Linked DNA regions of Homo sapiens: region 1 is linked to region 2. Evidence: fine-mapped expression QTL. A gene starts in region 2. The other region holds a variant in brackets. All regions are shown on one strand. Distances are from middle to middle.

Region 1 (15,291 bases), 30 kb after region 2:
CATAGATGATCTCTGTGCTCCCTCGTGCCTCCTCTCTGATTTGTCAGGTGAAAGGCTCTCGGGATGACAGATTCAGGCCCAGCTCTCCCGCGAGAGTGTTTTGTCCCCTGTGAGGATGCGTACTGCCTGGGCGTGATAAACCTATCTTAGAGGATCTGCCTATCCCACCCTGATCTGTACGCCCCTAGGGTAGATTCCCCCCAAAAGAGGCAATATGAACTTCTGAGTTTTCAGCTGTGGAAAAAAAAAAAATAATAAGCTGGGCACAATGGCTGACATCTGTAGTCTCAGCTACTCAGAAAGCTGAGGCGGAAGGTTCGTTTGAGCCAGGAATTTGAGGTTACAGTGAGCAATTGCGCCATGGCACTGTAGCCTGGGCGACAGAGCAAGAGTCTGTCTCTAAAAATAAATAAATAAATAAATAAATAAAAATTAATTTTTAGTAACAGCTAAGGGAAAGGGTTTGGAGGTTTGCTGAGGAAATGCATCTTAGTGTTCCAGTACTTCGTGTCCCTTATTTTAATTAAAAGAACCAAATTGACTTTTCCCAGGACAACCCGACTTATTAGTGTTTTTTGTGTTACTAAAACTTGTTGACTAGAGAATTTCAGATGCTGTTCTGAAGGTGAGTGAAAGTGGAATGCAGTAACTTGGATCTAGAGTTCGAACTTTAACAATTGGGAGGCTGATAATGAGGCAGAGACTGGGAAAGGGGCAAGTCTGGGGGAGAGCCCCAGGGCTTCATCTGTTAATATTGAGATGCTACTGGACACACAAGTGGAGATGCCAAGGAGGCTGGAGCTATAATAAAGTCAGAGCTAAAGATAGAAATTTAGGACTTGGCCAGGCGTTGTGGCTCACACCTGTAATCCCAGCACTTTGGGAAGCTGAGGTGGGCAGATTGCCTGAGGTAAGGGGTTGAAGATCAGCCTGGCCAACATGGTGAAACCCTGTCTCTACTAAAAATACAAAAATTAGCCAGGTGTGGTGGTGCATGCCTGTAGTCCCAGCTACTTGGGAGGCTGAGGCAAGAGAATTGCTTGAACCTGGGAGGCGGAGATTGCAGTGAGCCGAGATCGGGCCACTGCCCTTATAGCCTGGGTGACAGAGTGAGACTCTGTTTAAAAAAAAAAAATTAAAATAAATAAGTTAATAAATAAATAAATAAATAAATAAATTTAGGACTGATTGTCATTTAAATCAAAGGTGATGAACTTTTTAAATGCCATGGACCGCTTTGGCAGTCTGGTGAAGCCTACAGCCCTCTTCTCAGAATGATGCTTTTAAGTGCATAAAATAAAATACATAAGATTGCAAAGGAAAACTGCATTAAAATATAAGTAGGTATTAAAAAATTGTGATAAAGTAATATAATAACTCTTGTATTAATACATTAAATAACAGATTTATAAATCTAATAACTAACATATTTGCAAGTAGTAAAAAAGATAAAAATATTTTTGGATGTCTGGAATAACTGTAATGTAATATGAACATGTTCGTGAATGGTGACAGAGCTCCAGATATGACAGTACCATTGCTTTATTTACGAATGAAAGAAATATTAACTTTCAGATAGAGATTAGTGAAGATAGAATATTTTTTCCCATTCAAGTTCATAAACCCTTAAATGATATTTAAAGCTATGGAACATGATGAAATCTACTAGTATGTAAATAAAGAAGAACAAGGGTCCCTAGGACTAATCTGGGATGTTCTTATATTAGGAGATTGAACGAAGGTACAGGAGCTTAAAAGAGACTGAGAAGGCACAGGCAGTGATGTAGGAGAGGAACCAAGAGGGGAGAAATCAATAAGTCAAGGCAGGAAAATGTCTATGGGAAGGAATCAAGGATCTGTATTCTTCATAACCTTCAAGTATTTATTATGTACACTGATGACTAAGATTCCTCTTTACTGGACTATTCCCATTGTTCATTCAGCTACTATTTTTCAACCAAAACGGTACAGCAAGCAAGGTGCTCTAGGGCTGGGAATACAGAAATAATGATCACTTCCTCTGTGCCAGGCACTCAATATTCACGAATTGAATCCTGTCACATCCATATTATTATTAGTTTCACTAGTAGATGGGATTAGGGCATTTATCAGAATCATCTAAGTGTTTTGCTAACAGAGAAAAAGATAAAAGATGGCTGTGCCCCACCCCAGACATTCTGAGTCAGAATGGGAAGTTGGGATACCCATGTCCCACTGTGTTTCCAATAAATTGCACATGTGATTAACATTTGTTTATTTTTGTAGAGATGGGGGTCTCACTATGTTGCCCAGGCTGGTCTTGAACCCTTGGGCTCAAATGATCCTCCTGCTTTGGTTTCTCAAAGCGATGGGATTACAGGCTTAAGCCACCAAGACTGGCCTGATTTCCATACTGACCAAAGTTTGTCTTTGATTTTTAAAATTATCTTTTTTCATAGATTTAAAAAAATTTATCTTTAATTTTTGTGGGTGCATAGTAGGTGTATATATTTATGGGGTACATGAGATGTTTTGATACAGGCATGCAATATGTAATAATCACATCATGGAAAATAGGCTATTCATCCCCTCAAGCATTTATCCTTTGTGTTACAAAAAATCCAGTTACACTCTTTTTTTTTTTTTTTTTTTTTTGAGATGGCGTCTTGCTCTGTTACCAAAGCTGGAGTGCAATGGCACGATCTCGGCTCACTTCAACCTCTGCTTGCCAGGTTCAAGCAATTCTCCTGCCTCAGCCTCCCGAGTGGCTTATAGGCATGCACCCTTGATGCCCGGCTAATTTTTGTATTTTTTCAGTAGAGATGGGGTTTCGCCGTGTTGGCAGGTGATCCACTCACCTCAGCCTCCCAAATGCTGGGATTACAGGCATGAGTCACCACGCCTGACCTTTGTTTTGTAAAGACAAGGTCTTGCTATGTTGCCCAGCCTGGTCTTGAACTCTTGGCCTCAAGTGATCCTCCTGCCTTCACCTCCCAAAGTGTTGGGATTACAGGTGTGAGGCACTGTGCCTGGCCAATTACGCTTTTTTAAGTTATTTTGAAAGGTACAGTTAAGTAATTATTAACTATAGTCAATCTGTTGTGTGATCAAATAGTAGGTCTTTTTAATTCTTTTTGTTTTTTTTGTACCCATTAACCATCCCTACCTCCCCTGCAGACCCCCACTACCCTCCCCAGCCTCTGGTCACCATGCTCTACTCTCCATGCCCATGAATTCCATTGTTTCAATTTTTAGATTCCACAAATAAGTGATAACATGCGATGTTTGTCTTTCTGTGCCTAGCTTATTTCACTTAACATAATGATCTCCAGTTTCATCTATGCTGTTGCAAATGACTGAATCTCATTGTTTTTTAAGGCTGAATAGTATTCCATTGTGTATATGAACCACATTTTCTTTATCCATTCATCTGTTGATGGACACTTAGGTTGCTTCCAAATCTTAGCTATTGTGAACAGTGCTGCAACAAACATGTGAGTGCCGGTATCTCTTCAATATACTGACTTCCTTTCTTTTGGGTATATACCCAGCAGTGGGATTGCTGGATCATATAGTTGCTCTATTTTTAGATTTTTGAGGAACCTCCAAACTATTCTCCAGAGTGTCTGTACTAATTTACATTCCTACCAACAGTGTACAAGAGTTCCCTTTTCTCTTCATTCTCACCAGCATTTGTTATTGCCTGTCTTTGGATATATCCCATTATAACTGGGGTGAGATGCTATCTCACTGTAATCTTGGTTTGCATTTCTCTGATGATCAGTGATGTTGAGCACCTTTTCATATGCCTGTTTGCCATTTAAATGTCTTCTTTTGAGAAATGTCTATTCAAATCTTTTTGCCTAGTTTTAAATTGGATTATTAGATTTTTTTTCCTATAGAGTTGTTTGAGCTCCTTATATATGCTGATTATAATCCTTTGTCAAATGAGTAGTTTGCAAAACTTCACTTTGTTGCTATTTTTCCTTTGCTGTGCAGAAGTTTTTTTTAAGTTGATATAACCCCATTTGTTCACTTTTGCTTTGGTTGCCTGTGCTTGTGGGGTATTTCTCAAGAAATTTTCGCCCATAACAATGTCCTGGAGATTTTTCCCAAACTTTTCTTGTAGTAGTTTCATAGATTTAAGTCTAATCCATTTTGATTTATTTTTGTATATGGGGAGAGATAGGGTTCTAGTTTCATTCTTCTGCATATGGATATCCAGTTTTTTATTCTTTTACTGTCTCTGTATATTTTCAGACAAGATTGGGTGTGCTCGAAGACTGGGCGTGGTGGCTTACACCTGTAATCCCAGTACTATGGGAGGCTGAGGTGGGAGGATCACCTGAGGTTGGGAGTTCGAGACCAGCCTGACCAACATGGAGAAACCCTGTCTCTACTAAAAATACAAAATTAGCCAGGCGTGGTGGCACATGCCTGTAATCCCAGCTACTTGGGAGGCTGAGGTGAGAGAATTGCTTGAACCCAGGAGGCAGAGGTTGTGGTGAGCCAAGATCGTGCCATTGCACTCCAGCCTGGGCAACACGAGTGAAACTCCATCTCAAAACAAAAAAACAAAAAAAAGATTGGGTGCATTCGGGGTGGTATGGCTGTAAACTGACTGTATTTTCAAACAGCCTGGCTTCAAGCTCACTAATTCTTTCTTCTGCTTGATCAATTCTGCTATTAAGATTCTGATGCATTCTTCAATATGCCAGTTGCATTTTTCAGCTCCAGAATTTCTGCTTATTTTAAACTATTTCAATCTCTGTGTTAAATTTGTCTGATAGAGTTCTGACCCTTCTGTGTTATCTTGAATCTCTTTTAGTTTCCTCAACACAGCTATTTTGATTTTTCTGTCTGAAAGGCCAAATATCTCTGTTTCTCCAGGATTGGTCCATGTTGGCTTATTTAGTTCATTTGGTGAAGTCTTGTTTTCCTGGATGGTGTTGATGCTAGTAGATGTTCTTTGGTGTCTGGGCATTGAAGAGTTAAGTGTTTATTGTAGTCTTCACTGTCTGGGCTTGTTAGTACCTGTCCTTCTTGGGAAGGGTTTCCAGATATTTGAAAGGTCTAGAGTGTTGTAATCTAAGCTATATCTGCTTTGGGGGACACCCCAAGCTCAGCAACACTGTGGTTCTTGCAGACTTGTAGAGGTACTTCCTTGATGGTCTTGGACAAGATCTAGGAGAATTCTTTGAATTACCAAGCAGAGACTCTTGTTCTCTTCCCTTACTTTCTCCCAAACAAACAGAATCTCTCTCTCTGTTCTGAGCCACCTAAAGCTGGGGGTGGAGCGACACAAGCACCTCTGTGGCCACCACCACTGTGACTGTGCTGGGTCAGCCCTGAAGCCAGCACAGCCCTGAGTCTCACCCAAGACCTTCTGTAACCACTTCCTGGCTACTGCCTATGTTCTGTCAAGGCCCTGGGGCTCTACAGTCAACAGGTGACAAGGCTAGTCAGGCCTGTGTCCTTCCCTTCAGGTCAGCAAGCTCCCCCAGGCCTTTGGTGGGTCCAGAGGTGCTGTCTGGGCCTCAGGGAGTAGAATGAAAACCTTAGAAGTCTACCTGCACTGTGGCTGAGCTGGCACTCAAACCATAAGACACAGTGCTTCCCACTCTTCCCTCCCTTTTCCAAAGGCAGAGGAGCCTCACTTCATAGCCACCACCACCGCAGGCCACGGGGAGTACTCCACAGGAAGTACTGCCATACTACCGCCAATATTCTCTTAAGGCCCAAAGTCTCTTAAGTCAGCTGGTGGTGAATGCTGCCTGGCCTGGGACTCACCCTTCAGGGCAATGGGCTCCCCTCTGGCCCAGGGCAGGTCCAGAGATATCCACAAGCCAGGTCCTGAAATATGTGACCCCAAAAGCCTGCCTGGTGCTTTGCCCATTTGTGGCTGTGCTGGTATCTGAAGCTAGCAAGTTTCAGAGGCTCACCCTAGGCCCTTGATTGAAGGGGTCCTGCCCCTCCACACCTGTGGGTGTTTCTCGTCAGGTGGAGACGAGAGACTGAGAAAAGAAATAAGACACAGAGACAAAGCATAGAGAAAGAACAGTGGGCCCAGGGGACCCGCACACTCAGCATGCGAGGACCTGCACCGGCGCTGGTCTCTGAGTTCCCTCAGTATTTATTGATTTCTATTTTTTACTATCTCGGCAAGGGGAGTGTGGCAGGAGAACAGAGTGATGATGGGGAGAAGGTCAGCAGGAAAACATATGAGCAAGTAATCTGCATCATAAATAAGTTCAAGGGAAGGTACTGTGCCCGGATGTGCACGTAGGCTAGATTTATGTTTCTCTTTACCCAAACATCTCAGTGTAGCAAAGAGTAACAGAGCAGTATCACTGCCAGCATATCTCGCCTCCAGCCATAGGGCGGTTTTCTCCATCTCAGAGTAGAATGAATGGTCGGCTTCACACGGAGACATTCCATTCTCAGGGACATGCGGGAAACAGAGGCCTTCCTCTTATCTCAACCGCAAAGAGGCCTTCCTCTCTTACTAATCCGCCTCAGCACAGACCCTTTATGGGTGTCGGGTTGGGGGATGGTAAGGTCTTTCTCTTCCCATGAGGCCATATCTCAGGCTGTCTCAGTGGGGGGAAACCTTGGACAATACCCAGGCTTTCTTGGGCAGAGGTCCCTGTGGCTTTCCACAGTGCATCGTGTCCCTGGTTAATAAAGGACGGAGAATGGAGATGACTTTTACCAAGCATACTGCCTGCAAACATATTGTTAACAAAGCACATCCTGCACAGCCCTAAATCCCTTAAACCTTGATTCAATACAGCACATGTTTCTATGAGCACAGGGTTGGGGCTAAAGTTACAGGTTAACAGCATCTCAAAGCAGAACAATTTTTCTTAATATGATCAAAATGGAGTTTCTTATGTCTTTCTTTTACTACATAGACACAGTAACAGTCTGATCTCTCTTCTTTTCCCCCACACTGATACAGTACCTGGGTATCGCTGCTGGTTGTTCAGGTCCCAAGCGCTCTTCATTTAGCAGATGCTGAATGCTGGCCGGACTGGGTCCTTTCCTTCAAGGTGGCAGGTTCACTTCTGACTCAGGGTGTGTCTAGAAATGTCATCTGGGAGCTG[G/T]GGCCTGGAATGGGGGCCTCACAACTCTGCCCAGTGCCCTATCCTGCTGTGGCTGAGTTGGCATCCAAGATGCAAGACAAAGTCCTCCCCACTCTTCCTTCTCTCCTCAAGAGGAAGGAAGGAGTGTCTTATGCAGCGGAGGGCTGTGCAGCCTGGAGTTAGAGGAGGGGCACCCCAGCTGGTGTCTCAGTATGTCACATGCCACACCCCTGCCCCCCCACCAAGTCCACTGTCTCTGGGCCCAGTTCAGCCCTAGGACATGAAGTCATGTCAGAAGAACTGCAGGCTGGTCAGGGTGGAGGAACTGGGGAGAGGGGGTAGAAGATGAAGTCATGCCAGGCGTGGTGGCTCACATGTGTTATCCTAGCATTTTGAGAGGCCGAGGCAGGTGGATCACTTGAGGTCAGGAGTTTGAGACCAGCCTGGCCAACATGATGAAACCCTGTCTCTACTAAAAATACAAAAATTAGCCGGGCATGGTGCTGGGCACCTATAATCCCAGCTACTCAAGAGGCTGAGGAAGGAGAATTGCTTGAACCCGGAGCGGGGCGGAGGTTGCAGAGAGCAAAGATCATGCCACTGCACTCCAGCCTGGGCGACAGAGCAAAACTCTGTCTCAAAAAAAAAAAAAAAGAAGATGCAGTCAGATGAAGATGGACTCTGTAGGGCATGGCATGATCACATTTACTTTTTTTTTTTTTTTTTTTTTGCCTAAGATTTGCAGCCCTTACGGCCTAGACTGTCTTTAAGGTTTTTTAGAGTCCCAGAGCACTGTAGCCCTCAGTGGTGAGGTTTGTGGGAACTCAAGTTCAGACAGCTGGAATAGGCGATTCCCCTCTGGCTAGGGCTGGTTTGAATGCTCCCCCAATAGGTGGGTGTTAGCTGAGTTTGGTTTAGTTTTCCTTTCTGCTCTAACAGAACAGCACTGAGTTCAATGCCTTACAACTGCTGTTTACTCCCTCCCTCAGTGCCCAGAGACGCGCTCCGCACCATGCTACTGCTGGGGTCAAGCGTGGAATGGAGGGGTGGGGGTACTTTGAGGGCTCATGTGATTTTTTGGTTCTTTTTTTTTTAACTTTTAAGTTCAGGGGTAATGTGCAGGTTTGTTATATAGGTAAACTTGTGTCACAGCGGTTTGTTGTACAGATTATTTCATCACCCAAGTATTAAACCTATTATCCATTTGTTATTTTTCCTGATCCTCTCCTTCCTCCAGCCCTCCACCCTCCAGTAAGCCCCGGTGTCTGTTGTTCCCCTCTTTATGTCCATATGTTCTCATCATTTAGTCCCCACTTATAAGTGAGAACATGTAGTATTTGGTTTTCTGTTCCTGCATTAGTTTGCTAAGGATAATGGCCTCCAGCTCCATCCATGTTCCTGCAAAGGATATGATGTCATTCTTTTTTATGGATGCATAGTATGCTATGGTGTATAGATATTGTATTTTTTTAATCCAATCTACTATTCATGAGCATTGAGGTTGAGTCCATGTCTTTGCTGTTGTTAACAGTGCTGCAATGAACATATGTGTGCATGTGTCTTTATAATAGAAGGATTATATTTCTTTGGGTATATACCCAGAAATGGGATTGCTGCATCAAATGGTAGTTCTCTTTTTAGATCTTTGAGGAATTGCCACGCTGTTTTCCACAATGGCTGAACTAATTTACACACCCACCAACAGTGTATAAGCATTCCTTTTTCTCTACAACTTCACCAACCCCTGTTACTTTTTGTGTTTTTAATAATAGCCACTCTGACTGGTGTGAGATGGTATCCATCGTGGTTTTGATTTGCATTTCTCTAATGGTCAGTGATGTTGAGCTTTTTTTCACATGCATGTTGGCCACATATATGTTTCTTTTGAAAAGTGTCTGTTCATGTCCTTTGCCCACTGTTTAATGGGGTTGTTTGTCTTCTTGTAAAATTTAAGTGCCTTATAGATGCTGGATAATAGACCTTTGTCAGATGCATAGTTTGCGAAATGTTTCTCCCATTCTGTGGGTTGTCTTTTTACTCTGTTGATGGTTTATTTTGCTGTGGAGAAGCTCTTTAGTTTAATTAGATCTCGTTTGTCAATTTTTGCTTTTGTTGCAATTGCTTTGGGCATTTTCATCATGTAATTTTTGCCTGTTCCTATGTCCATAATGGTATTGTCTAGGTTGTCTTCCAGGGTTTTTATAGTTCTTAGTTTCACATTTAAGCCTTTAATTCATCTTGAGTTAATTTTTGTATGTAGTGTAAGGAAGAGGTCCAGTTTCAATAGTCCGCACATGGCTAGCCAGTTATTCTAGCACCATTTACTGAATAGGGAGTCCTTTCCCCAGTGCTTGTTTTTGTTGACTTTGTCGAAAATTAGATGGTTGTAGATGTGTTGTCTCATTTCTGGGCTCTATATTCTGTTCCATTGGTCTATCTGTCTGTTTTTGTACAAGTACCATGCTATTTGGTTACTGTAGCCCTGATGTATAGTTTGTAGTAGTATAGTTTGAAGTTGGGTAGCGTGATGCCTCCAGCTTTATTCTTTTTGCTTAGAATTGCCTTGGTTATTTGAGGTCTTTTTTTGGTACCCTTTGATTTTTTTTTTTTTTTCCAAAATGGAGTTTTACTCTTGTCACCCAGGCTGGGGCACAACGGCGTGATCTTGGCTCACTGCAACCTCTGCCTCCTGGGTTCAAGCGATTCTCCTGCCTCAGCCTCCCGAGTAGCTGGGATTACAGGAGTGGGCCACCACTCCCAGCTAATTTTTGTATTTTTAGTAGAGACGGGGTTTCACTATGTTGGCCAGGCTGGTCTTGAACTCCTGACCTCAGATTATCACCTGTCTTGGCCTCCGAAAGTGCTGGGATTACAGTTGTGACCCACAGCACCCAGCCCATATGAATTTTAAAATAGTTTTTTCTAGTTCTGTAAAGAATATCACTGGTCGTTTGATAGGAATAGCACTAAATCTATAAATTCAATGAGCAGTATGGCCATTGTAACAATATTGATTCTTCCTATGAATAAGCATGGAATGTTTTCCCATTTAAGGAGTTTTTTTTTTGGGGAGGGGATAATTGGTGGAGCCTTTTATTCTGCCAACTTGCTCTGCTTCCCTCATAGATTTTTTAAAAATTAAAATTTAAAAAAGAAACTAAAAAAATACTTTTAAGAGAGAAAAGAAACAGCAAATATAACAAATGGGTTCACTGTATTATGCTAAAAGTGGTAAGTGCTGTGGAAAAAAAGGAAAAAGTTGGGTAGAGGAAGGGATTTTGAAATGCCAGGGGGCAGGAGGGCTCATATTTCTCAGTATTCATAGGGTGAACTCACTGAGGTTGTGCAAGAAGATATCTGTGGTCAAAGTACTGGCAAGAACTGTTAAAAACGCCCTAACGTGGGAGCATGAAGTTGTGTCAGAAGTACTGCAGCCTGGTCAGGGTGGAGGAGCTGGGGAGAGGGAGTAGAAGATGAAGTCAGATGAAGATGGACTCTGTAGGGCATGGCATGATCAAATTTACTTTTTTTTTTTTGTTTTGAGACAGAGTCCCACTCTGCTGCCGGGACTGGAGTGCAGTGGCTGTGATCTCGGCTCACTGCAACCTCCGCCTCCTGGGTTCAGGAAATTCTCCTGCCTCAGCCTTCCAAGTAGCTGGGATTACAGTCACGCTCTATCACGCCTGGCTAATTTTCGTAGTTTTGGTAGAGACGGAGTTTTGCCATATTGGCCAGGCCGTTCTCAAATCCCTGACCTCAAGTGATCCACCCGCCTTGGCCTCCCAAAGTGCTGGGATTACAGGTATGAGCCACTGCTCCCGGCCTCCAAATTTACATTTTAAAATCAGCACTCAGCTGCTGTACTGAGAGTAAACTAACTGAACCCATGTCTTCTTGGCCTATGTGCTTCTAGGGCCACCTTCTGCTTTGGATTAGCTTAAGCAAAACTAATGAGCTCTAAATACAAGCCCTGTCTGGCCTGGTTTTAGGCGATGTCAGATCTTTAGTTTCCCCTAGTAGCCCTAATTTATCTTTATTTTTGCTCATGACACTCTCAGCTTTCAACTTAGCATTGCTGGTGGGTTATAGTTAGGGTTTGTCGTTTTCATAAAACTCTTCGTTCTATTTAGTTACAGTACATCTGTTTCTTATGAAAGATTAATTTTATGCATCTTTAAATCTTTGAAAACATAGCCTTGCCTCATGCTGGTTCTCGTCCACCCCTGTAGGCCTGATAAATGTTGGAGAAAACTTTGACAGCATAATTAAGGCATAATTTTATTCTATTTTTTTAACCTCTGTCACTCAAAAAAAAAGTGCAAAATAGAATTTATATGGCTGGAAGAACAAGGTGGCAGTGATTTATTTATGCCAGACCAGAGGAGGATATTGATATTTATTAAAATAAAATACTAAGATGGTAAATGGTCTACTAATCAGAACCTGGTTAACATCATGTGCCTGAGCAGGTGGGGTAGAGACAGGCAGAGCCCTGGAGATTGCTCTTATTTCAAATACAAGGGATACAGGGTCAGAGGGAAAGGATTTCGTTAGAAAAAGAGAATGCTCGCATTTACTCAGAGCGGACTGTTTGCTGAGCTCTCTGGCTGGACCTAGGAGCTAATGCCTTGTCTATGGAATCGTGGCTGAATTCCTACCCACAGCCTTCTTGGTCCTCTCTGGCCTTCTACTGCCTTTACAGATTGATCGTGGGGTGCAGTGGACCCTTTAGCACTTTGGAATTCTCTTAACCCACCCTGTACTGTCTCCAAATGGTTGCCTTAACTCAAGTCTACAGTGTTGTAAAATCTTTTGTCCTCAAAGGCACAAGACGTTCTGAATTGGCCCCTTCAGTGTATTTCCAGGGTACTTTGTAATGACAGGAATGGTTCATCATTGAGTGGTAAGGTCCTGTAGCATATTCCTTATATGCATGTTTCATTCATTCCTCTCATTAATGATATGAGACAAGTCCCTTCCCTTCCCTTCCCTTCCCTTCCCTTCCCTTCCCTTCCCTTCTCTTCTCTTCCCTTCCCTTCCTTTCCCTTCCTTCCTGTCTCCTCTCTCCTCTCTCTCTCTCTTTCTCTCTATTTTTTTGTTGAGACGGAGTTTCACCATGTTGCCCAGGCTAGTCTCTAACTTGGGCTCACGTGGTCCACCTGCCTAGGTCTTCCAAAGCGATGGGATTACAGGCGTGAGCCACGGCACTTGGCCTATTCCATTTTCTAGATAACAAAAGTGAAGCCCAGGCTGGGTGTGGTGGCTCACGCCTGTAATCCCAGCACTTTGGGAGGCTGAGGCAGGTGGATCACTTGAGGTCAGGAGTTTGAGACCAGCCTGGCCAACTTGGTGAAACCCTGTCTGTACTAAAAATACAAAAATTAGCCAGGTGTGGTGGTGGGTGTCTGTAATCCTAGCTACTTGGGAGGCTGAGGCAAGAGAATTGCTTGAACCCAGGAGGCAGAGGTTGCAGTAAGCCGAGATTGTACTACTGCACTCCAGTCTGGGCAACAGAGTGAGACTCCAGCTCAAAAGAAAAAAAAAAGAAAAAAAAAAAAAAAAAGGAAGCCTGGAAACATTAGGTCACGTGCCCAAGTTTACACAGAATGACTATGAGCCAAGTTCCTAGCCCCTGTGTGAATGGTTACATTATGCCTTGTACTATTGCAATTTATTAATATTTACACGTCTGTTCCTTCTATTGGGTTAAAAACTCTTTGAAAAATTGGACAATGTCACGTTTGTCTTTGTGTTCTCCTTAGTTCCCCACACAGCTCCTTACACATCATAAGGGGGCAATAACACTGTGATGAGTGAATGAATTGCACTCAGATGCCTAACACTAGCACTTTGAATTTTCAAGCTTGTTCACATCTCCCATCTCCCAACAAAGAAGGATATTTTAATAAGAGTTGTGGGAGAAATTAACAGAAAGCAAACATTGCCAAGAAAAATCCTTTTTGAGATTGGTTCTGACAGTCACACAGCAAGGGAAGAAGAAAATGGTTCTGAAGGGGAGGAACCTCAGGAAGGGGTTCTCTAACATCTGATTCAAAGCAGAGTTCTTTGTTTGTGAAGTCTTGTTCTCATGCGGTTGAGATCTAAATCTCTATTTATAGATTAAAATGCTGCTAATGCTGGCAAGTTGCAGCAAATTGGTTGCCTGGAGATGATAATACTTTGTTAATCCAGTATCAAGCTGTGCTGGGCATTATTGAAACCCAGTCTAGGAAGGACTTTCTGATCATCGAGAATTAGAAGAAGGCTGGTGCAATTCCAAGTGGCATTTGCATCATGCATTTAGGAACAGTTGAAAGTAACCAACTTAAGGTGCTTGGGGTACCATTCCTTAAGGTGACCTCCTAAACTTGTCAGAAAGTTATCTCTGCTTTCCTTTATAGATTTGATGACCATATATGTACCCTTAGAAAATACATTTTTTGTTTTGCTTATTTTTGAACTTTATAAAAAATAGTATCATACTATGTGTATTCTGAAACTTGTTAATTCACTTTTTTCCTCAACATTATTTCCTGAGATTCAGTTCATCCATGTTGAAGCTTGTAGCTATGGTTCACTTATTTTTATTTTTTTATTTTTTTCTGAGATGGAGCTTTGCACTTCAGGCTGGAGTGCAGTGGTGCGATCTCGGCTCACTGCAACCTCCGTCTCCTGGGTTCAAGCAATTCTTCTGCCTCAGCCTCCAGAATAGCTGGGATTACAGTCACCATGCCCAGCTAATTTTTGTATTTTTAGTACAGATAGGGTTTCACCATGTTGGCCAGGCTGGTTTCGAATTCCTGACCTCAGGCGATCCTCCCGCCTCGGCCTCCCAAAGTGCTGGGATTACAGGTGTGAGCCACTGTGCCCTGCCGGTTTATTTATTTTTATTGCTGTATAGTATTCCATTGTATCAATGCTACCATTTACTTATCCAAACTTCCACTGATGAACATTTGAATTGTTCCAGTTCTTTTTATCATGAACAATGCTAAGAACATTCTTGAATATGTTTTTTGTGCACATGTGCAATAATTCTTGGGGTATACAATTAAGCCTGATATTGACATGAGTGTTCAATTTCTTAAGATAATGGACAACTATTTTGCACTGATGTTGAACCACTGTTGCTGGCAATTATGGGGGGAGCACTATATTTGGGACATGGGGAAGGGATGAGGCCAGGGAGGGGCTTGGTTGATGGGAGGGCAGGGAAAGAATTCTCAGCATAGAAAAGTGGTAGTTCCAGGCATTCTTGGGTGGGCCTGAGCTTAGCTGGTGAAAAACAGAAAGGCTGGAGCACAGAAGTGGGGGAACATTGGCAATGAGGTGGGAGAGGAAATCAGAGCCAAGTCCTGAAAGCCAGATTAAAGAATTTGATTTTATTCAATGTGAGGATTTTGAGATGGGGAGTGGATGTGATTTTATTTACATTTCTAAATAACATTTTGGCTGCTCTGTAGAGAATGGATTAGGGTTGAAAGCAAGAAGAACATTAGATGCTAATCATAACAGTCTGAGAGCCCGGGGCTGAGCAGTGCAGAACTGGTTGTGTCGTGGTAGGGGAGATAAGACCTGCTATCAGAGCAGATGTGGGCTGTGAAGGAGAGACAAGAATCAAGGCTGACTCTGAGTCACCAAACTTGTCCCATCTACCTCTTAAGTTTTTCTCAAATGTATGTGTCCCTTCTTTTTCCATTCCACTACCTCAGGTCTTACTATCTCTCATTTGACTACTGCAAGAAGCTGTCAACGAACTCTTCCCAGGGCCTCAAGCTGGCTCTCTTATCCTCCCTCCATCGATCTCCATATAGCTGATGAAATTACTTTTCTAATCAATGATTTTTCTAGATAAAGCAAGTCACATCATTTTCTTCATTAAAAATCTTAGGTGAGTCCCTAAATGCCCTTAGACCAAAACCTTATTCCTTAGGGATAGGAAAAGGAATTACAATGTTGAGTACTTTACATACCTTGAATCCTCATTTAATCCCTCCTAGAATTCCATGAAGAAGCGATTACCCTTGTTTTGTGGGTAATACAACTGAGGCCAGAGTGAAGGAATTTTCCCAACATCATAGGGTCACAGAGATAATAAATGACAGGGGTCTGTTCACATAAGCCAGTGGTTCCCAAACATGGGTGCAAGAGGGTCCTTGTTGGGGGCGAGAAGGCCCCCCAGGGCAATGATATCTCAATATCCTGGGGAGGCACCTGAGTTAATTTT
Region 2 (15,291 bases):
GACTTACACTTACATGATCTCCCAAATTGTAAACTCCATTTAACAAACTCTCCAAACCTGCTTGACTGGCTTACTCATGGAGTAACTCAGCCTTTCCTGTGTGTTTGTGCAGAGTGAGGCCCATTTCCCCAGCCTAGTCCTCTCCCAAGACTTTCGTAAGTGAGTTCCACCCAACTAACTTCAGAGCAAGCTTGGGTTCTGTGCCTCTGAGAGCAGCTGTGGTAAGATTGATTGCTTATTCACAGGGAGGAGGAAACTTGAGTTGGGATTCCAAGAGATGCCTTTTAATAAATGTGTTAAAAAACATTCCTGCATTTTCCTCTTAGAAATTCTGAACTGTTTTGACCTCTGTTGCTGTTAACTTCCATCTCTTTGGATTCTTCCCCATCTCCTCTGAGTTTGGAAAAATCTTTCAGTTGCCCTGTTCCAAAAAGCCTCTCCCAAATATGGACACGTGGCAAAATATCTGTGGAGTGGGGAAAAGGTTCTTTTTTAAAGCAATGTTGATGATCACTGAGTGGTGTTAAAAGTAAATTTAAAAAATAATAATGCCAAAATAAGTGGATGTTCGTGTGGAAAGCAAACTTGACTCCTACCTTACACTATACATTAAACTCAATTTCAGGGGGAATAGAGATCCTCAATGTGAATGAAAGTATAAGCTTTTAGAAAATATCCTAATGACTTTAGAGCATAATACCCTGTTGTTCTCAACAATGAGCAATATGGACATTGTCATAATGAAGTGATGACTGCTTAGCCTCTAAATCTGGTAACTACTTTGGGACAATATGGGAGGAAAAGTGAAGACAGTGATGGTGTAAGAGCTAAATCCTCATCTGTCATATCAAGAAATCACTATATAATGTATAAAACAATCAAGAAATGCCTAAGTAGTTATGTGAGAAAAAAATAGAGGACATTGCTAAAAGAGTTAAAAGTCATTGCTCTGGAGAATTAGGAGGGATAGGGTAGGGGACTGGTAGGATGCATTATAAACTGAAGAGGCTTTTAAAAATTTCATGTATTAATATATGCATTCACTTGAAAAACTAAAAAAATAATAATTGGAAAAACCCATGAAGGTAACTACCAGAAGGAAAAACTGAGAGAATGAGAAGTGCTTGCCTCTGGAAAGAACAACTGGCAGGACTGTTGCTTTCATTGTAAGGCTTTTGGAGCCATTTGATTGTACTTAATCATTTTTATCTATTTCTTTAATAAAAACAATTTTATCTTAATAAAGAGTTACACTTGTTCGAAAAAAAAATCTTCATGATTTTGCAGGTTGGAAAAGATATTTTAGACAAGATACAGGAAAGAGAAGCAACGTTTCCTAAATGGGACCATATATAATTAACTTTTGTCCCAATGTTTCCTAAATGGGACCAATATAATTAACTTTTGTTCCTCAGAATATTCCATTAGAGTAAAAGATGGCTTCACAGTGGTAGAAGGTATTTACAAATCATAACTGACAAAGGGCTTGTCAATCGAGGAAAATGATGAGACAAGTCTCAATCATTTTAGCAGATTTATTTGCCAAAGTTAAGGAACTGCCTGGGAGACAGGTCTATCCCTTTCTCCAGAGATGATTTTGAGGGCTCCAAATTTAAAGGAGAAAGGGCGGGATAGTGAGAAGCACACAGTTTTCATGTAAACAAAGGGGGCAAAGGAAAAATGTGGAGAATCTGCATTTTACATAAGATAATACAGACGAAATGGGGTAGGGGAACAATCAGATATGCATTTGTATCTGGGGTGACTGCACCTGTAAAGATAAGTTATCAATTACATTGCCATGGTGAAGTTTTTATAGCTCACCAGGAATTTCCTTGTGGGCAAAACATGGGGGAAGCGTGTAGCTTTTCATCTTGTAGCCATCTTATTTAGGAACCAAAAGGGGGAGATAGGTATGCGTGACCCAGTTCCCAGCTTGACTTTTCCCTTTGGTTAAATGAGTTTGGGGTCCCAAAATTTAATTTCCTTTCATAGGCTTGTAACCAGAACATCTAAGGAACTCTTTCAAATAAAAATGGAAAAAATCCAGTAGAGAAAATGGGCAAGAAAGTTGAGCAAATATTTAAAAAGTTGGCATCTAACAACCAATAACAGGAAAATTTTAATTAAACTCAATGACATACTGCTACACACCCACCAGAATGGTTGACATTAAAAGGTCAGCTGAATAATGATGAGAAATGGGAATACTCACTCTGCTGATAGGCATGCAAATTGGTAAAATCACTTAGGAAACCAATCTGACACTATCAGCAAAGTTGAAAGTATATGTTTATTCCAGTGGCCTAGCAATTCCACTCCTAAGTACAACCCCAGAGTAAATTTATTACAGATACTCCCCCTGGCATGGATAACAGTGTCCCTAGCTGCAATGTTTGTAGAAGCTCCAAAAACCCCAAACTTAATAACGCAAATGTCCACTAGCAGCAAAATGTATAAGTTGTGGAATATTTACATGGCAGAATCCTGTGCATTATGAAATGGGATGAGCTGCAGTTACATGCAACACCATGTGAATCTTAGAGAGCTGATGGCCAGGCATGGTGGCTCACGCCTGTAATCCCAACACTTTGGGAGGCCAAGGCGGGTGGATCACGTGAGGTCAGGAGTTTGAGACCAGCCTGGCCAACAGGGTGAAACCCCGTCTCTACTAAAAATACAAGCCGGGCCTGGTGGCTCATGCCTGTATTCCCAGCTACTCAGGAGGCTGAAGCAGGAGAATCGCTTGAACTGGGGAGGCAGAGGTTGCAGTGAGCCAAGATCACGCCACTGCACTCTAGCCTGGGCAACAGAGCGAGACTCTGTCTCAAAAAAACAAAAAAAAAGTTTCAATATAAGCAAAGAATACATTTTGTGTTTCTATTATATAAAGTTCAAAACCAGGCAAAGGTACTGCTTGGGGATTCATAATTAGAAGTTAAGGTATAAAGAAAAGCAAGGAAGTAATTGCCCCACATTTGGGTCAGTAGTCACCCCTGGTTGGGTTTACCCCAGGGAAGGGAGGCAGCAGTGATGAAATGTGTAGGGCTGGACCCTGAGGGATGGCAATATCCTGTTTCTTGACCTGAGTGACAGTTCGCCTTATAAGTTGTATATTTGTTTTTATGTATTTTTCTGTATGTTGTATTTCACAACGAATTTTTTTTTTTTTAACATAAAAACACCTCCCCACAACTGCCTTTGCCTGCCCTAGGTCTTCCCCTTCCCCGCCCCTCCCTAGCACCACCACTGCACCAGAAGAGCGTTCATTCTGCTACCATTTTTCCTAGCCTAACTCCCGCTCATAACACAAACTTCTCCTCCTTCCCCAACCCTAGCGTCACCAGTAACCTCCTAGCTGGCAAGTCAAGTGAACCCGTGGCCTCACTCTATAGACTCCTCTGTCCTTTCGGAGTCTTTTCTGTTGACTTGTGGTTCTACTTTCCCTTGACTTCTCCAGATCGCCCCTCTCCTGGTTCTGCTGCTCTTTCTCTCCCTGTGGCCCTCTGCTTCATTCTCTGACATCTCTAACTTCCCCACTCCTTAAGCGCTACTGTTTCCCAGGCTTCCCTCACAGTGGTCTTATCCGCGCTCATATCTATGCTAACAGCTCCCAAATGTGTGTCCTCTTCTGAGCTCCAGGTGAACGTATGCTACAAGCTTCCTACTTCATCTACCCCTTCATGAAGATGCCTGGAGTCAACTTAATTTCAACCAACAGGCCTCAAAGAGAACTCACTCTCTTTTTTGCTCTAACTTTATTCCTAGATTTTCTACCTAAATAAAGCCTTGCCCGAGGCTGGGTGAGGTGGCTCACACCTGTAATCTCAGCACTTTGGGAAACCCAGGAAGAGATGGGAGGATCACTAGAGGCCAGCCTGGGCAACATAGCAAGACCCTGTCTCTACAAATATAAAAAATAAAAAAACTTAGCCAGTTGTGGTAGCACGTGCCTGTAGTCCCAGCTACTCAGGAGGCTGAGGTCAAAGGATTGCCTGGGCTCAGGAGTTTGAGGCTGCAATAAGCTATGATTGTGCCACTGCACTTCAGCGTGGGTGACAGAGTGAAGCCCTGTCTCTATTTAAAACAACAGCAATAAATAAACAAAGGGAATCACTTCCAAGTTGACATCCCAAGCTGGAAACATTGACTCCACACTTTCCTTAAGCTGCTCAGCATCAAAAGCTGCTATTGTTATGTTCATACTATGTGCCAGGCACTGTTTTCACAAGTATGTATATACGTGTGTGTGTGTGTGTGTGTGTGTGTGTGTGTATAAAATGTCCATTATACATATATAATATTAGCTTATTTAATTATTTCAACAATCCCAAGATAGGTACCATTATTATGCTCTTTTACAGAGGAGAAAACAGAAATCTTCAGAGCCAGAGCAGCATTTAGGCCCTCATCTTTACTCCTGAATTTCATTGTGGAGGGGTCACCTCATCAGTATTAGTACCTCCGTCCCAGTGTCTGCATCCACTGCCTTTAGCCTGGTTTGGATTATGACAGTAACTTCCCAACGGATGTCCCAGCCACACACAAATCCCTCTCCTTTTCCAAGCACTTTCAATGGGGCCACCAAAGTAATATTAAAAAAAAAAAAATCAGCCTGGTGCAGTTGGCTCACACCTGTAATCCCAGCACTTTGGAAGGCTGAAGCAGGCAGATCACTTGAGCTCAGGAGTTTGAGATCAGCCTGGGCAACATGGTGAAACCCGATTTCTACAAAAAAATACAAGAATTAGGTCGGGCACGGTGGCTCACGCCTGTAATCCCAGCACTTTGGGAGGCTGAGGCAGGCGGATCATTTGAGGTCAGGAGTTTGAGACCAGCCTGACCAACGTTGTGAAACCCTGTCTCTACTAAAAATACAAAAAAAGTAGCCAGGTGTGGTGGCATATGCCTGTAAACTCAGCTACTCAGGAGGCTGAGACAGGAGAATTGCTTGAACCCAGGAGGTGGAGGTTGCAGTGAGCCAAGATCATGCCACTGCACTCCAGTCTGGGCGACAGGGTGAGACTTCATCTCTAAAACACAAAACAAAACAAAGACTAGCCAAGTGTGGTGGCGCATGTCTGTAGTCCTAGCTACTCAGGAGGCTGAGGTGGGAGGATTGCTTGAGCCTGGGAGGTTGAGGCTGCAGTGAGCTGAGATCATACCATAGCACTCCAGCATGGGTGACAGAGTGAGACCCTGTCTCAAAAAAAAAATCACAATTTGACTGCGTAAATTCTGAGCGATTCCTTCTAAAATGCCTTAGCACACGCAGAGGCCACCTGACCTGATGCCAGCCTGCCCCCTTTCCCTATACCGTGTTCCCTTCCTCCATCCCAGGCTCATGTGCTCTTCTCCTTTAGGGTTCTGAGTCTGTACAGATAGTTCTCTCTGCTTGCAGTGCTCTGCCCACCCCACCTCCTACTGTGACCTGACCATCCTTAAAGCCCTAATCAAATTCTCCCTCCTTTGGTGATGCTGTCACAGACTCCTCAGTCAGCTCAGCTCCAGCTATATATTATTTACAATGCACTTGGTGCTGGCTGGGTGTTGTGGCTCATGACTGTAATCCCAGCACTTTGGAAGGCCAAAGCAGGAGGATTGCTTGAGGCCAGGGTTTCAGACCAGCCCTGGTAAGATAGCAAGACAAAATATAAAAAATAATAAATATAAGAATACAATGCACTTGGTGCAAACCTCCGCCATTTTCCTTAACATCAATTATATTGTAATTGCATGCTTATTTCTGCCTGTCCTTCTCCTTGAGGGCAAGAAGAGCATATTATTCTTTCTTGAGTTGGTATCCCTTCTTAGAGGCGGCCATATCTAGGGGGCAGTTGATGATTCTACTGAATAAATAGAAATAACCCAGTCACTGTTTTTAGGTGTGGGTGTTGTTGGTATGATACTCTGCTGGGTTTGAGATGCCCTGCTTAGAACCTTGAGGCCTGGGGATGCTAGCCTGTGTGTGTGCGCGCGCGTGTGTGTATGCGTATGTGGGTGTGAGTGTTTGCACACGTGTGTGTGTGTACTTTGTCCTTTCAGGCAGTTATTTTTCCTGAACTGATGGGAACATCTTGCACAAAATCAAGAGCCAGTTTGCTGACTGTTTTAAGGTTTAAAAAATATTTTAAAATAAAATAAGAAATCCTTAGATATTCCACATACACGCAATACTTTAAATGCCAATCCGAACTTCCTTCATAAATAGCAAACGTCTTATTTGCAACTACTGTTGAATGAAGTCATTTCCATCCTCAGCCATATGAGAAATAAGTTCCTTATTCATAGAAAACGTTTAGAGGTACAATAAAATGAGATTAGAAAAAAAAAACCCTAACATTCATTTCTATCGTTGGTTACAAAATCCACTCTCATGTATGAAGTGTGCTCTAGCTGTGAAATCCTTTCTTGGAGGTGAGATCATTTCTCTCTTATAACCCATATCACTGACTTTGTGCTCCTGTTTAACCTTTCCCACTGGAGTACTAGCTCCATGAAAACAGCAATTGGTGCTCCCTTCTTTGAGGAACAGTCCAGATGAGAGCCTGTCCAGGTAATCCATAGATATGCATAACCATTGCACCTGCACCAGGTCTTACAGGCACAGGCCTTTTGGGAACCCATATCAGCATTTCAAGCTGTGAAAGTAGTTCTACTTAGTAAAATTAGAACTTTGGTCTACCAAGGGCACTCTTAATATTTGAAGAAGAAAAATGAATTTCTAGCACAATTCACAGACTAGGACAAGGTGAATAAGTAAGCATCCTAACTTATTTGGAAGTCCTGGTGGCATGTTAATGCATATTTAATAATGCGAGTGAAGTAGCACATATTTTACAATCAATTAATTTTCCTTAAAGAAGATAATGTAGCAGGAGAGCTGAATGTCAAACAAGGTAAGACTCATACTTATTAACTTGGCAGGAGTTATGAGGCCTCTGATTCTCTTGAAAGACAAATTGTCTTCACTATTTTGATTTTGAAATGTAGAAATTCAAATTTCAATCAATCCAATGAGTAAGGATGACAGGAAATTTTACAGAACTAGGAGGAAGCTTCCTTTCATTTTTCCTTCTTTTTATTGGGGCAGGTGTAGGGGGATGTTTCCCCCACAAAACAGCAGTTTTGCTAGAAGACAGTGAGGGATCACCACCGTTGTGTGCCCTCCTCCCTGGGAGCAGCCAGTTGCTGTGACATGGACCTTCTCTATTGCAGATATATTTTCTTGCTGCCATACTTCCTCTGACTCTATCCAATTCCATCCTTTCCATTCTCTGGAATCAGAATGGGCCCATGCTTTATGCTTTTCCCCCTCACTTAGCCCTTAGAGAAGAGATCAGGATGTGCCACCCTCCAAATGCCCACATTTTGGCACAAGAATATTTTGAACTGAAGGCTATGAAAAAGAAAGCAGACACAGAAAGAGCTCTCTGCCCTCCCCCATCCCCCATCTTCCTAAAAGCAGCACATTTATTGATATTTCCCTTGCACAGGTGTCCCGCTTGCTCATACAAGGAAGAGAGCAACCCTTATCACCAAAGACAGAGATGCCGCTGAGATAAATCTGCATGAACAAACCTCGATAAATTAACCCTTATCTTCCATTATTTCCACCTCCCACCCCCACTTTATTGTCCCTAAAAGCATAACCCTCTTTTCCTTTGTCTAGTCATTTCACTATTTGCCGTGCTTTGTTTTAATGGTATATAAGCTCCTGAGTCTATTAGGTTTTTCCGTTTCTTTTATGTGAGGCTCTCATACATGTGAGATTTTATTTTATTATTATTATTTTTTTGAGACTGAGTCTCCCTCTGTCAACCAGGCTGGAGTACAGAGGCACGATCTTGGCTCACTGCAGCCTCTGCCTCCCAGATTCAAGTGATTCTCCTGCCTCGGCCTCCCGAGTAGCTGGGACTACAGGCATGTACCACCATGCCCGGCTGATTTTTGTATTTTTAGTAGAGATGGGGTTTCACTATGTTGGCCAGGCTGGTCTCAAATTCCTGACCTCAAATGATCAGCCCGCCTCAGCCTCCCAAAGTGCTAGGATTACAGGCATGAGGCACCACTGCCAGCCACATGTGAGATTTTAAATATGAATAAAATTTGCGTGCCTTTTCTCCTGCTAATCTGTTTTATGTTGGTTTAATTTGCAGGCCTCAGGCACTCAACCTAAGAGGGTAGATGAAGTTGTTTCCTCTCCTACACTTGTGACCTATAAGTGGTAACCCGATGCCTACTCATGGAGATGGGCATCACTGTGACCATGGGACAGATGATCAAACTTGGGCTCTGGGAAGTTACAGGAATTTGTGGGTGCTGGAGTCTGAACTCCTGTCAAAGCCCTTTTACCTCCCTCTTTCCTTTCTTGGCTAGCACCTCAAAGTTTTGTTTTGCCCATCTAGCAGACCGTAAAGTCCAAGGGATTGTTGACACTTGCCGGTGCAGGCTTCCCATCTTCTCCAGAGCGCCCATGCTGAGTGTCAGCTAAGGAAAGGAAGCACACCTAAAAACAGCCCTGGAAATCCCCATCCCAGACCCAGTCAAAATAGCCTGGTGTTTCTGACAGGTCTCCTTCTATGTCTCTGCGGGCACCCAGCCTCGGGCTGAGCAGCATTAATCACTCAGTGAGTTTTGGTTGATGAAGTGAGACTGATTTGCGTAATCCAGCTGCTCTGGGGCAGGTACCGGGGCCATCTGACAGGGGCTCCAGGACTTGGCTTGAGTAAAAGGAACCCTGAGACACTACCCCAGCCAGGATCTAAATTCCCCCATTTTTCCCTTCTCACCAGTTCTTTGGAAAAGTGCCTGAAGATAAATAATGGACCCCTGCTGTGAGCCAGAAGGGAAAAAAGGCAAGAGAAGAAGGCTGTCTTGTTTCTAAGTGACCATAGGGATCACAACACATCGATTAAAAGAGACTTTTCAGGTTTGTCAACCCAGAAGAGCCCAAGAAGAAAAAATAATGGGCTTAAAGTGTGCCGTTAAAAATCGTATTGTCCTGATAATCTCCCTGCTTAGGTAAGAAACTTGCCAAGGGGCTAAGGAAAGGGCAGCTTTTCCACTGAAGGCCTTTAACATAAGAGGAAAGCTCTGCTCACCTGGAAGCCCACGTTGCTGTAGCCCTCAGCTCTGGGGGCTGCTGTACTCCTCAGCTCCATGCTCTTTTTGCTGCTGGCTGGCTCTGGTCTGGAGGTCCTTTGTACCTGGGAAAAAGCACCAGTCTCTGCTGATGTCAGAAAGCCACCTGCTGTTACAGGGACCTGGGCACAGCTTGCTTCAGTTTGGAAACTTCTGCAATAATCTCCTGAATGACTAGGGCTGACACCTGGTTGGGGTGGGGCAGAGAGGCGGGCGGGTTGGCGGGGTGGAGGCATCTAGTGCTGGCCCGCCCACCTTATTAATCTTTTCCTTTATCCCCATTTTTGGCATCCTATTTGCACTCCTGGGGAGAAAACTCTTGTGGTGCACAAAACAGAAAAGGACACTTTCTTTTTCTTTCTTTCTTTCTTTTTTTTTTTGAGATGGAGTCTCAAAAAAAAAAAGGCTGGAGTGCAGTGACGCAATCTCGGTTCACTGCAACCTCTGCCTCCCAGGTTCAAGCAATTCTCCTGCCTCAGCCTCTCAAGTAGCTGGGATTACAGGTGCATGCCACCACACCTGGCTGACTTTATTTTTAGTAGAGACGGGGTTTCACCATGTTGGCCAGGCTGTTCTTGAACTCCTGACCTCAAGTGATCCACCTGCCTTGGCCTCCTAAATTGCTGGGATTACAGGCATGAGCCACCGTGCCCAGCCAGAAAAGGACACGTTCTCTATAGTGCTTAGTGAAATCCTCTGTTTTCCTGTGGGTGGTGTTAAAGACTAGGAGTGGTGGTGGGGTGGAGGGTGAGTGAACACAGGATATAAGGTCATGCCGCCCTCAGTGATCACCTACTGTATACCAGGGATGGATAGATGGATAGATACATAGACAGATAGGTAGGTAGGTAAGGGTCTTGGCTCTTCTTCCGAACAACTCAAAATTCTATACTGAAGTACAGAAAAGTTAACAATTTGTTTAGTGTCATTTAGCTAATAAAGGGATAATGAGAATTCAAATTCAAGTTTGGTTAATTCCAAAACCTTTTATTACATCCCTGCTTCAGACTGGGCTGCTTTCAAAAATCCAGCTTACAGAAATGCCGATATGTGACAAGTAAATGAAAGGTGACCAGCTATTCAATTATCAAAAGTGAATAGAAGTGCTTTGTTTTCATAAAGCAATTCACTTTGCTTTATGAAAATATTAGCTGTAGAATTCTTTTAAAATAGGGATTTTCCCCCCTAGTACAATTTAAAATACTGCAAAACTGTGGACAAAAGAATGGAAAAGGCCTGGTGCGGTGGCTCACGCCTGTAATCCCAGCACTTTGGGAGCCCAAGGCGGGTGGATCACTTTAGGCCAGGAGTTCAAGACCAGCCTGGCCAACATGGCGAAACTCCATCTCTACTAAAAATACAAAAATTAGCCAGGAGTGATAACGTGCGCCTGTAGTCCCAGCTACTCGGGAGGCTGAGGCGGGAGAATCGCTTGAACCCAGGAGACACAGATTGCAGTGAGCCGAAAACGCACCGCTGCCTCCCATCTGGATGACAGAGTGAGACCCTGTCTCAAAAAAAAAAAAAAAAAGAAAAGAAAAAGAAAAAGAAAAAGTAAGAAAATACCAAGTATTATGAGTGGTTATTTCTCGGTTTTTAATTTTATGGGCAGTTGGTGTTTTTTTTTTCTCCTTCAAATGCTGCTGAGTTTTCTATAAAGAGAATGATTTACTTTTATTATTGTTAACCTAAAGGAAAAAACGGAGACAAACTTAATGTAAGTATAGAGTTTATTTGGTCTAAGTTTGAGATTGCAACTTGGGAGCACATATTCAAGTTGCTCTGAATATACACTTAGTAGCAGTTACAAGTAGATTCTTGTGTGTGTGTGTGTGTGTTCTGTTGCCCAGGCTGGAGTGCATGATCATGGCTTGCTGCAACCTTGACCTCCTGGGCTGAAGCTATCCTCCTGTCTCAGCCTCCCGAGTAGCTGGGACTACAGACAGGTGCCATCACCCATGGCTAAATTTTTTTTTTTTTTTTGGTAGAACTGGGGGCCTCACTATGTTGCCCAGACTTGTCTTGAACTCCTGGGCTCAAGCAATCTTCCCACCTGCCTTGGTTTCCAAAAGTGCTGGGATTACAGGCACTGTGCCTGGCCACAAGTGAATTTTAAAGGAAAAGAAGGAGTTTCTGAGTTGTTTACCAATTATTTACATTAAAATAACATAAGCTATTGATTGGCTATACATTGCTATTTGTATCACACATTCTAGGAACAGAAAGGCAGCCAGTCAGGAACAAAATTCCTTTAAAACAATTGCCCCTGGCCAGGCACAGTGGCTCCCGCCTATAATCCCAGCACTTTGGGAGGCCGAGGCAGATGGATCATGAAGTCAGGAATTCGAGACCAGCCTGGCCAACATGGTGAAACCCTGTCTCTTCTAAATACTACAAAAATTAGCCAGGCATGGTGGCACATGCCTGTAGTCCCAGCTACTTGGGAGGCTGTGGCAGGAGAATTGCTTGAACCCAGGAGGTGGAGGTTGTGGTGAGTCGAGTGGAGGTTGTGGTGAGTCGAGATCACGCCACCGCACTCCAGACTGGGTGACAGAGCAAGACTCCATCTCAAAAAAAAAACAAAAGACAAAAAACAAAAGCAAAAAAAAATTGCCCCCGGGCACAGGGTTGAGTGGTGACTGAAGTCCAACCCTCCGTTTCTCTGGGCCTGATAGATTTTGCATTGCTCACATAGCTGGGACTGTGTGAGTTATTTTTGTTTTCTCTTTATCAGTGACTGAGGCCCAGTCTCTCTGGGCCTGATAGATTTTGCATATCTCACATAGCTCAGACTGTGGGAGTTATTTTTCTTTTCTTGTTATCATGATACAGACTGTACAGTGTATACATAATGATTAAAGGCTTGCAGGAACCTGTGGTCTGGGTTCAAATCCTGGACTCTACCTCATAACTACAGCCAACCACAGCTTGAGGGTCACACCTAACCTTCTGCTGCTTTTATATGGCCCAAGAGCTAAGAATGGGTTTTAGATTTTTAAATGGTTGAAAAAAATTAAAAGGAAGAATATTTCCTGACACATTAAAGTTATATGAAATTCAAACTTCAGTGTCTATAAATAAAGTTTTGTAAAAACAGAAACATGGCCATTGATTTATGTATTGTCTAAGGCTGCTATCATCCCATAAGGACAGAATTGAGTAGCTGTGACAAATACCACACGGCTCAAAGACAAAATATCCACTACCTGGCTGATGCCTATAATCCCAACACTTTGGGAAGCCAAGATGGGAGAATCGCTTGAGCCCAGAAGTTTGAGATCAGTCTGGGCAATGTAGGAAGACCCCGTCTCTACAAAAAATACAACAATTAGCCAGGTGTGGTGGTACGTGCCTGTAGTCCCAGCTACTTGGGAGGCTGAGGTGGGAAGACTTACTGGCCATGGGAATTTGGGCAAGTAGCTGAGTTCTCTGTATCTCAGATTCTTCCTTCATAAAACGGAGATAACAGTACCTGAGGACTAAGCTCTGATTTTTTTTTTATCTTGCCCAAATTATGATCTAAGGGGTCTGGGGAGTCATGCCCTACAAATCATAAATTCTCATCATATGGGTTTTTTTTTTTTTTTTTTTGGTCAGACAGAGTCTTGCTCTGTTGCCCAGGCTGGAGTGCAGTGGCAGATCTCAGCTTACTGCAACCTCCGACTTCCGGGTTCAAGTGATTCTCCTGCCTCAGTCTCCCGAGTAGCTGAGACTACAGGCGTGTGCCACCATGCCTGGCTAATTTTTACATTTTTAGTAGAAACAGAATTTCACCATGTTGGCCAGGCTGGTCTTGAACTCCTGATCTCAAGTGATCCACCTGCCTTGCCCTCCCAAAGTGCTGGGATTACAGGTGTGAGCCACCGCACCCGGCCCAGATGGGTTTTATTTAACCCTATATATCATGACTTACTTTCAAACCTGACTCGCATAACATTATGAGACAAGGAAGAAAATAAAAATATTTTACCCCAAAACATGTTTCTTTGACATATTTTGAAAAGGAAACATTGTCATCCTTTGTCTCTAAGGGCAGCCACTATAAAACTTCAGAAGAACTTTGGTTTCCACAATCTTTATCTTAGCCTGAATATTCCCTTTCTATGAATCCCAGGTCTTGAGACAAACTCAACCAATTGTCAACCAGAAAATGTTTAAATTCCCCTATAGCCTGGAAGCCCAACCCCCTCCTCCCCTTGCTTTGAGTTGTCCTGCCTTTCTGGACCAAACCAATGTATTTCTTAAATGTATTTGATTGATGTCCCATGCCTTTTTAAAATGTATAAAACCAAGCTGTGCCCTGACCACCTTGGGCAAATGTTCTTAGGGCCTCCCAAGGGTTGTGTCATGGGCCATGATCACTCATATTTGGCTCAGAATAAATGTCTTCAAATATTTAACAGAGTTCAACTCTTTTCATCGACATACCCATTTAGAAACAGTGCTGAGATGATAAAATGAGTTAATATACACAGGGAATAGTGCCTGACACATAATTCAACATCACCCAAATTTTATGATTTAGCTCTTTCGTGCTTCTTATTGATGAGACTTGGGGATTTTCATTAGTTCTTCCCCATCATTGCAATGTGCCATAAGTAGTAGTCATTGTGTTACCAAAGGCAAAAAAAAAAAAATCCAAGTGGAAGTGAGCAAGAGAAGTACAGATAAATAGACAGCAAATATTTGGGAAACTTTCCTTGAGAAATCGTTAGTTGGAAGAAACCAGTTGGTGCAACCTGATATTAAAACCTTCACCAACTCAAGACTCAATCTAGTTGAAGGTTATGGATGATCCTTACTTTCTGAAGCAAAAGACAGACATCTTCATTCTATCATTTAAAGCCTCTAATTGCAGAAACGTGACTCCAATGCCTGACATTCTTGCAGACACTGCTTTAGGAACTTTTAGAAATGTAACGATGTGTTTTCTTCTCCTTGGCTGCAGACAAAATTTGAAAAGAATGCAACAACATTTGGGGGAGCATATCATTGTGCAAGTCACAACACTAGACAGTGTTGATTAAAAGATACAGTGACCTCCCTCATCCATTCTCCAACTGTACCTGCCAGCAGGAAAAATTGACACCTAATTAGAGTAAATTGTATATACAACCATGATACTAAAATGCCAAAACAATGGTCATATCCAGAGAACTTGTAATTTAAAATTGTATGTTTCTGAAGCCTATCTTTAAGGAGCTTTCAGAACCAGTAAAAATTCTGACTCCTTGCAGCACCAGAATTAGTTTGATTTATGGGGCTATCACTTAAAGTGGTAACACCTTGGTAGAAGCTATGGCTCATTTTGTCCAATTAGGAAATAGAAATTGTGATCAGAAAATGAGATGAAAGGCCTTTTCAGTTTTACAAGACTACATTTTAAACAATTCCCCAGTCATGCAGAGTCATTATTTGTGAGAAATAGCTTGTGCCAAGAACTAAAAAACTGTCTCTTAACTCCTCAGAATTATTTTCATTGCGTTGTCACTCAAACTCAATTTTAAACTTTGAAACCATTGTGTAGCAACCAAATCACTAGACTTTTCAGTCAAATAATTCCTATACCCCGTTCTGTTCTCTAAAACTCAGCTTATAAAAATTTGCAAACTCATGGACTGTCTACGCACAAGCTCATTAAAGAAAACCAAAACACAAAAGTCCTCCATTTTTATTAAAATATGAAAGGAAAAATAAGTAATTACATGGCAATAGATTGTTTTTCCTGCCTTATGCATGCAGTTCTATAGTGAAGTCACTCTTGGTGACGGTATTTCCAAAAGGAGTAAAGAGAAAATTTGTAAAAATTGTGTAGAATGCTTGTCCTATGTTGAGCATGATGTGTTATATGTTCCAGACTCCTGTCTTCCTCCCTGAAGAACATTTCATGTAGTGCAGATTAACCTTTGTCTATACAACTTGAAGTAGTTAAATAAATAAATCAAATAATATTAATGTTAATAATAAAAATGTAATCCTGGGAGGTTTATAAGGCTTAGTCTAATTAACTGTCAATTGTTCAGATCATCCAAGAGGGGAAAAAGGAAAGCAATGAAAATGTGTATTTGACATAGGAAATGCTTCAGGATTTGTTTTTCAACAAAATTCTCCTTGCAGTTAGGTTTTTTCCCTGACATTTACACTATA

The links.
Region 1: its variant is fine-mapped to the expression of SLC28A3 in subcutaneous fat (GTEx, PIP above 0.99). The same link has a PIP of 0.9 or more in whole blood.

What each region holds. Positions count from the first base shown.
Region 1 is chr9:84,361,509-84,376,799 of GRCh38, forward strand. It overlaps a transcript of SLC28A3 not described here. Among named protein-coding and RNA genes, the nearest start is that of SLC28A3, 28 kb to the left of the region's middle. RefSeq lists an enhancer at 14,923-15,291. The variant G/T (reference allele first, on the strand shown) is at 7,086.
Region 2 is chr9:84,331,470-84,346,760 of GRCh38, forward strand. It overlaps SLC28A3 (solute carrier family 28 member 3), which reads right to left and starts at 9,289. Exons shown (of 18, transcript NM_001199633.2): 1 at 9,105-9,289. The coding sequence starts at 9,164.